2 linked regions of the Homo sapiens genome follow. The protein of the gene in region 1 purifies or fractionates together with the protein of each later gene. This does not show direct contact. Each region holds a gene or a part of one and is shown in the gene's direction. Other genes may lie near its edges.

Evidence for each region.
Region 2: the proteins of MOB3A (region 1) and TRIOBP fractionate together in Homo sapiens (co-fractionation; one large-scale study listed by BioGRID). This does not show direct contact.

The regions. Positions count from the first base shown.
Region 1 is NC_000019.10:2,075,677-2,079,486, reverse strand, and holds part of MOB3A (MOB kinase activator 3A), read left to right. Parts: intron 1-807; 5' UTR 808-926; coding exon 927-1,347; intron 1,348-2,473; coding exon 2,474-2,676; intron 2,677-3,810. UniProt on the Homo sapiens protein: May regulate the activity of kinases.
Region 2 is NC_000022.11:37,700,034-37,703,843, forward strand, and holds part of TRIOBP (TRIO and F-actin-binding protein), read left to right. Parts: intron 1-1,272; 5' UTR 1,273-1,332; coding exon 1,333-1,446; intron 1,447-3,810.

The DNA.
Region 1 (3,810 bases):
CAGCCGTCTCCCCCGTATCTGCCTCACTCCTGAGGATGTTTGTCACTGACTGTGGGGCCACCCAAGGAATCCAAGATGACGTCCCTTGAGACCTTCTTCCACCTAGGCTGCCATGCACAGGCTGCGGGCATTGCGGTGTGGCTTCCTTTGTGGAGGCCGTAGTCCGGCCATGCAGTCCCCTGTGACTGGCATCTCAGCCTGCCCCACACTCAAGCCCCACAGTGCTGGGTAGCAGCAAGTCTAGGTCCGGGCCAGGCATCGGCACCGGGGAAGATGCGGCCCCTGCGGGCTCTTGGGGCCCGGCTCTGCGCACCTTCTGCTGTGAATCGGTCAGGCCTCGCCACGCGCAGTTCTCTTCTGTCCACTGAGGAGGTGGCCCCCTTTGGGTGAAACTCCTTAAAGTCAAAAGTCCAGGGGATGTTTTGAACCCTGCCACTAGTGGCTCACACCTGTAAGCCCAGCACTTTGGGAGGCAGAGGTGAGAGGATCATGTGAGCCCAGGAGTTGGAGACCATCCTGGGCAACATAGTGAGACCTCGTTTCTACTAAAAATAAAGAAACTTACCCAGGTGTGGTGGTGTGTGCCTATAGTCCCAGCTATTCAGGAGGCTAAGTTGAGAGGATCGCTTGGGCCTGGGAGGCAGAGGTTGCAGTGAGCTGTGATGGCACCACTGTACTCCAGCCGGGGCAACAGAGTAAGACCCTGTCTCAAAAAACAAAACAAAATCCTGCCGCTTGTGCCCTCAGCACGAGTTTCCGGGAAATTCTGTCGCCTCCAGCAGGTCATGATTCCCCTGTGTATTTCAGGTCCGCGGGAGAGCTGTGGGGCTTGGTGAGTGTTTCGTGGCCTCTCGGGTTGGTCAGCACCCCCAGCCAGCTGGCCCAGGACCCCTCTACAGAAGTCCAGGAGAGCAGGCGTCACCAAGATGTCCAACCCCTTCCTGAAGCAAGTCTTCAACAAGGACAAGACATTCCGCCCCAAGCGCAAGTTTGAGCCAGGCACCCAGCGCTTCGAGCTGCACAAGAAGGCGCAGGCGTCGCTGAACGCCGGGCTGGACCTGCGGCTGGCCGTGCAGTTGCCCCCGGGCGAGGACCTGAACGACTGGGTGGCTGTTCACGTGGTGGACTTCTTTAACCGCGTCAACCTCATCTACGGCACCATCAGCGACGGCTGCACGGAGCAGTCCTGCCCCGTCATGTCGGGGGGCCCCAAGTATGAGTACCGCTGGCAGGATGAGCATAAGTTCCGGAAGCCCACGGCACTCTCCGCGCCCAGGTACATGGACCTGCTGATGGACTGGATCGAGGCGCAGATCAACAACGAGGACCTCTTCCCCACCAACGTTGGTGAGTCAGAGCTGGCAGGGGCTCGGGGATACAGAGCCTTCCAGAAAAGTCAGGGAGGCCGAGCACAGTGGCTCACACCCGTAATGCCAGCGCTTTGGGAGGCCGAGCCCAGGGATCGCTTGAGCCCAGGAGTTTGAGCTCAGCCTGGGCAACATAGCAAGATCCCATCTCTACAAAAAATTTTAAAAATTAGCCAGGCATGGTGGCACACGCCTTTGGTCGCAGCTACTCGGGAGGCTAAGGTGGGAGGATCGCTTGAGGCTAGGAGGTTGAGGCTGCAGTAAACTATGATCGTGCCACTGTACTCCAGCCTGGGTGACAGAGCAAGACCCTGTCTCAAAAAAAAAAAAAGGATTCCATTTCTGAGTATTCTCCTAAGTTGGGCTGCTCTTAGTAGCCCCCCTTCATCCTGAATCACTCCTGGTGACTCCTGTCTCCTCACCCCAAAGCAGAGAATGACAGGATCAGCATCAGGCCTGGAGTCCTTCGCAGAGGAGACAAGCACCCCTGCCAGTGCTGGGCCCAGTGTTCTCAGTGGTTTCAGAATCACTGCCATGGAGCCCCTGGGCCCACCAGGATCATCACCCCGTTGGCGGGACCCCCTGCCCAGCTCGATGTGTAATGCACTGCATGGCTCTCAGGGACACCCCATAAACGTGGGTTTGAGGATGATCATTAGGGCACGTCCCTCCAGAGTACAGCGTACCTTTCTTTTCTTTTCTTTTTCTTTTTTTTTTTGAGACAGTGTCTCACTCTGTCACCCAGGCTGGAGTGCAGTGGCACGATCTCGGCTCACTTCAACCTCTACCTCCCAGGTTCAAGCGATTCTTCTGCCTCAGCCTCCTGAGTAGCTGGGATTACAGGCATGAGCCACCACACCCGGCTAATATTTGTATTTTTTAGTAAAGATGGGGTTTCTCCATGTTGGCCAGGCTGGTCTCGAACTCCAGACCTCAAGTGATCTGCCTGCCTCGGCCTCCCAAAGTGCTGGGATTACAGGCGTCAGCCACCGCGCCCGATCTGCCAGCAATTTCTGTCTGGAAGCCCCTTGTCACATCCAGGAGCAAAGGGTTCTGGACATGGACTTGGCTGAGTCCGTGGACCCGTCCCACCCCTCTCCCTGCAGGCACTCCGTTTCCCAAGAACTTCCTGCAGACGGTGCGGAAGATCCTGTCGCGGCTGTTCCGCGTGTTCGTGCACGTCTACATCCACCACTTTGACCGCATCGCGCAGATGGGCTCCGAGGCCCACGTGAACACCTGCTACAAGCACTTCTACTATTTCGTCAAGGAGTTCGGCCTCATCGACACCAAGGAGCTGGAGCCACTGGTGCGCGGGCTTGGGGCTGAGGGCGTGCGGTTACGGTGGGGCTGGTGGCCCGTGGCAGAGGAACCCTTCCGGGGCCAGGACCCTGACTGCTTGCGGTCGGCCCAGCAGCTGGCGGCCCCGGCTGGAGTTGGGCCCCGGGGACCCTGCTGATGGGACAAGTGGTGAGGTAGCTGGGAGGGATCCTGCGTTCTCCCACGGAACAAATGCCGGCGACAGGTGCAGTTTCCTCCGCGCCGCCCCGCGTCCAGCTCACTCCGCCTTCACCGTCCTGAGCTCAGGTGTCCCAGAGCGCCGCTCAGTGTCCCTTATGAAAGGGATGCGAGCCGGCACAAGCAGACTCCACCCCGACTTTTTTTGTTTGTTTGTTTTTGTTTGTTTTGAGACGGAGTCTCACTCTGTCACCCAGGCTGGAGTGCAGTGGTGCGATCTCGGCTCACTGCAACCTCCGCCTCCCGAGTTCAAGTGATTCTCCTGCCTCAGCCTCCCAAGTAGCTGGGATTACAGGCACGCGCCACCACGTCCAGCTAATTTTTTGTGTTTTTAGGAGAGAGGGGGTTTCACCGTGTTAGCCAGGATTGTCTCGATGGATCTCCTGACCATGTGGTTTGCCCATCTCAGCCTCTCAAAGTGCTGGGATTACAGGCGGGAGCCACTGTGCCTGGCCTTTTTTTTTTTTTTTTTTTTTTTGGAGATGGAGTCTGCCTCCCTCACCCAGGCTGGAGTGCAGTGGCGCCATCTTGGCTTACTGCAACCCCCACCTTCCGGGTTCAAGCAGTTCTCCTGCCTCAGTCTCCTGAGTAGCTGGGATTACAGGCACGTGCCACCACACCCCGCTAATTTTTGTATTTTTAGTAGAGACCAGGTTTTGCCATGTTGGCCAGGCTGGTCTCAAACTCCTGAACTCAGGTGATCTCCCTGTCTCGGCCTCCCAAAGTGCTGGAATGACAGACAGGAGCCACCGCACCTGCCTAGATTCCACCCGACTTCTGTAGCCAGCCGGGTACCTCTGCATCTGCCCTAGCCTGTCTGCTTTCCACGTTACCAGGTTTTATCGGGAGACGAACCCAGGGACCAGATTCCTCGGTGTGGGGTCCACATCCCTGAAGCCAATGTTGCTTCTTGAAATTGGGGCCC
Region 2 (3,810 bases), on another chromosome or scaffold:
ACGCCCAGCTAATTTTTGTATTTAGTAGAGGCGGGGTTTCACCATGTTGGCCAGGCTGGTCTTGAACTCCTGGCCTCAAGTGATCTGCCTGCCTCAGCCTCCCAAAGTGCTGGGATTACAGGCGTGAGCCACCGCCCTCGGCTGGAATCACTTCTTTAACATGCACAGCCCCAGACCTCAGTCTCTTGGAGATTCTAACTGTGTGAATTGGGAGAGAGAAAGGGGAATCTAGATTTTTTTTTTTTTTTTTTGAGATGTGGTCTTGCTATGTTGCCTAGGCTGGAGTGCTGTAACTATTCACAGGTGCAGTTATAGCACACTACCACCTCAAACTCCTGGGCTCAAGAGATCCTCCCACCTCTGCCTCCCGAGTAGCTTGGACTGCAGGTGCACACCATCTTACCCAGCTGAAATCTGCTTTTTTTTTTTCTCAGTGCAGTGGCACAGTCATGGCTCACTGCAGCCTCGACCTCCCAGACTCAGGTGATCCTCCCAACTTCAGCCTCCTGAGTAGCAGGGACCACAGGCCTGCACCACCTTGCCCAGCTAATTTTTGTATTTTTTGTAGAGACGGAGTTTCGCCAGTTGCCCAGGATGGTCTTGAACTCTTGGGCTCAAATGATCCGCCGCCCGCAATGGGCCCAGCTGGAATCTGCATTTTTTTGTTTTTTGTTTTGAGATGAAGTCTCACTCTGTCGCCCAGGCTGGAGTGCAATGGCGCAATCTTGGCTCACTGCAACCTCCGCCTCCTGGGTTCAAGCCATTCTCCTGCCTCAGGCTCCCAAGTAGCTGGGATTACAGGCACGTGCCATCACACTTGGCTGATTTTTGTATTTTTAGTAGAGACAGGGTTTTACCATATTGGCCAGGCTGGTCTCGAACTCCTGACCTCAAGTGATCGGCCCACCTCGGCCTCCCAAAGTGCTGGGATTACAGGCATCAGCCACTGTGCCTGGCCTGGTATCTGCATTTTTATGAACAGCCCAGGAGGGTGTAATGCAGAGTCCTTGGCGTGCACTTTCAGCAACACTGCAGTAAGGACTAGAAATCGCACATCAAATGCTGGCAGAGTGCCTGGTGCTTAGTAGGTGCTTAGTGAGTGTTTGTTGAGTGAATAAATGAACAGGAATGGATGGAGAACAGGAACCCAAAGGAATGGATGAGTAACCTTATTTCCTTGGTCCTTGTCTGGAAACTGGGGCAACTGGGGCTGGGGTTCAGGTGAGTGGCCAGCCAGTCATCTGGTCTTTGCCTCCCCCTCATTTTTGCCAGGCCTCACATAGACGGTCAGCCATTGGATCATAGGAACTGCCCTGGCCTGACTCACCCAATATGGAGGAGGTGCCTGGGGATGCCCTGTGTGAACACTTTGAGGCCAACATACTTACCCAGAACCGCTGTCAAAACTGCTTCCACCCTGAGGAGGCCCATGGAGCAAGATACCAGGTGGGCCAGTTTTCCACGTGGTTGGGGTGGTTTGTGATGGGGGCATGGGTGAAGGACTGGGCCTGTGGTGTCCGCTAACTCGCAGTTGAACCCAGATGCTGGACTTCCTCCTGTCGAGAGCCTCGGTTTTCCCACATTGCAGGGAAGTGGTTGAACCATGTGAATGTTTCACAATCTTCAGTCACTTTCCTCCTGCTTATATGATACGATTGTTACCATAGCCTTATCTAATCTGTTACTTACTTTGTTATTCTTTAAATCAACATCTTTTTCCCCTTCTATTGAAACAAAACTTCACATCATCAACACAAGTAGAAAACTAGAATTACTTCCTGTTAAGAAGAAGAGGTTAAGAAGAAAGGTAGAGGCTGGGCACGGTGGCTCACGCCTGTAATCCCAGCACTTTGGGAGGCCGAGGTGGGTGGATCACCCGAGGTCGGGAGTTTGAAACCAGCCTGGCCAACATGGTGAAAATTAGCTGGGCATGGTGGTGCATGCCTGTAATCCCAGCTACTTGGGAGGCTGAGGCAGGAGAATCACTTGAACCTGGGAGGCGGAGATTGTGGTGAGCCGAGATCGCGCCATTGCACTCCAGCCTGGGCAACAGAATGAAACTGTCTCAAAAAACAAAACAAAACAAAACAAAAAAGAGAAGAAAGGTAGAAAAAGAAAAAACAAAACAGAAATGTCGTTACACCCTAACTTGAGAGTGTTTTCTTTTTCTTTTTCTTTTTTTTGAGACAGAGTCTCACTCTGTCGCCTGGGCTAGAGTGCAATGGCAATGGTGTGATCTCAGCTCACTGCAATCTCTGCCTCCTAGGTTCAAGCGATCCTCCCGCCTCAGCCTCCCAAGTATTGGGATTACAGGTGCCTGCCACCATGCCCAGCTAATTTTTGTATTTTTAGTAGAAACGGGGTTTCGCCATATTGGCCAGGCTGGTCTTAAACTCCTGACCTCAGGTGATCCACCCGCCTCAGCCTCCCAAAGTGTTGGGATTACAGGCGTGAGCCACCGCGCCTGGCCTCGAGAGTGTTTTCTATGGAAGGCTCTGAGCTTGCATCCTGCTGTCTCTTTGTCAAAAAGGGAGATTAGCAGATGTTAGAGAGATGTTAAGAATACACCAGCATCATCTAGAGATTTTCTTTCTCTCTCTCTTTTTTTTTTTTTTTTTTTTTTTTGGAGATAGGGTCTTGCTCTGTAGCACAGGCTGGAGTGCAGTGGTCCAACCTATAGTACATGGCTCACTGTAGCCTCGACCTCCCAGGCTCAAATGATCTTCCCACCTTGGCCTCCTGAGTAGCAGGGACTACAGGCACATGCCACCATGGCCAGCTAATTTTCTTGTAAAGATGGGATCTCACTATGTTGCCAGGGCTGGTCTCAAATTCCTGGGCTCAGGTGATCCTCCCACCTCAACCTCTGTAACTGCAGGGATTACAGGTGTGAGACACTGCACCTGGTCTCAAGATTTTCTTCTTCAAGTTATTGAAGGAGTGAAGAAGAATCCTTTTTTTTCTTTCTTTTTTTTTCATTTGAGACGGAGTCTCTCTCTGTCGCCAGGCTAGAGTTCAGTGGCTCAATCTCAGCTCACTGCAACCTCCGTCTCCTGGGTTCAAGCAATTCTCCTGCCTCAGCCTCCTGAGTACCTGGGATTACAGGTGCCCACCACCATGCCCAGCTAATTTTTGTATCTTTAGTAGAGACAGGGTTTCACCATGTTGGTCAGTCTGGTCTCGAACTCCTGACCTTGTGATCTGTCTGCCTCGGCTTCCCAAAGTGCTGGGATTACAGGTGTGAGCCACCGCGCCTGGCCGAGATTTTCTTCTTCAAGTTATTGAAGGAGTGAAGAAGAGTCCTTTTCTGACTTTGTGATTGATGTAGTCTGCTGCCAAGCCCCCATGCATGTAAACACAGAGCACCTGATACACACGCAATGAGAAACCTGGGACTCACGAACCTCCGAGGGCCCTTCCAACCTTGACCACCATGGCTTCGTCATTCCCATTGGGGTCTGAAGGTCCTCTTTTTTTTTTTTTTTTTTTGAGACAGAGTCTCGTTCTGTTGCCCAGGCTGGAGTACAGTGGTGCGATCTGGGCTCACTGCAAGCTCGGCCTCCCAGGTTTATGCCATTCTCCTGCCTCAGCCTCATGAGTAGCTGGGACAACAGGCACCCGGCACCACGCCCAGCTAATTTTTTGTCTTTTTAGTAGAGACAGGGTTTCACCATGTTAGCCAGGATGGCCTCGATCTTCCTGACCTCGTTATTCGCCCACCTCGACCTCCCAAAGTGCTGGGATTACAGGCATGAGCCACCGCGCCCAGCTTCTACCAGTCTTGATACCTCCAATAATAGCTCTCTTGTG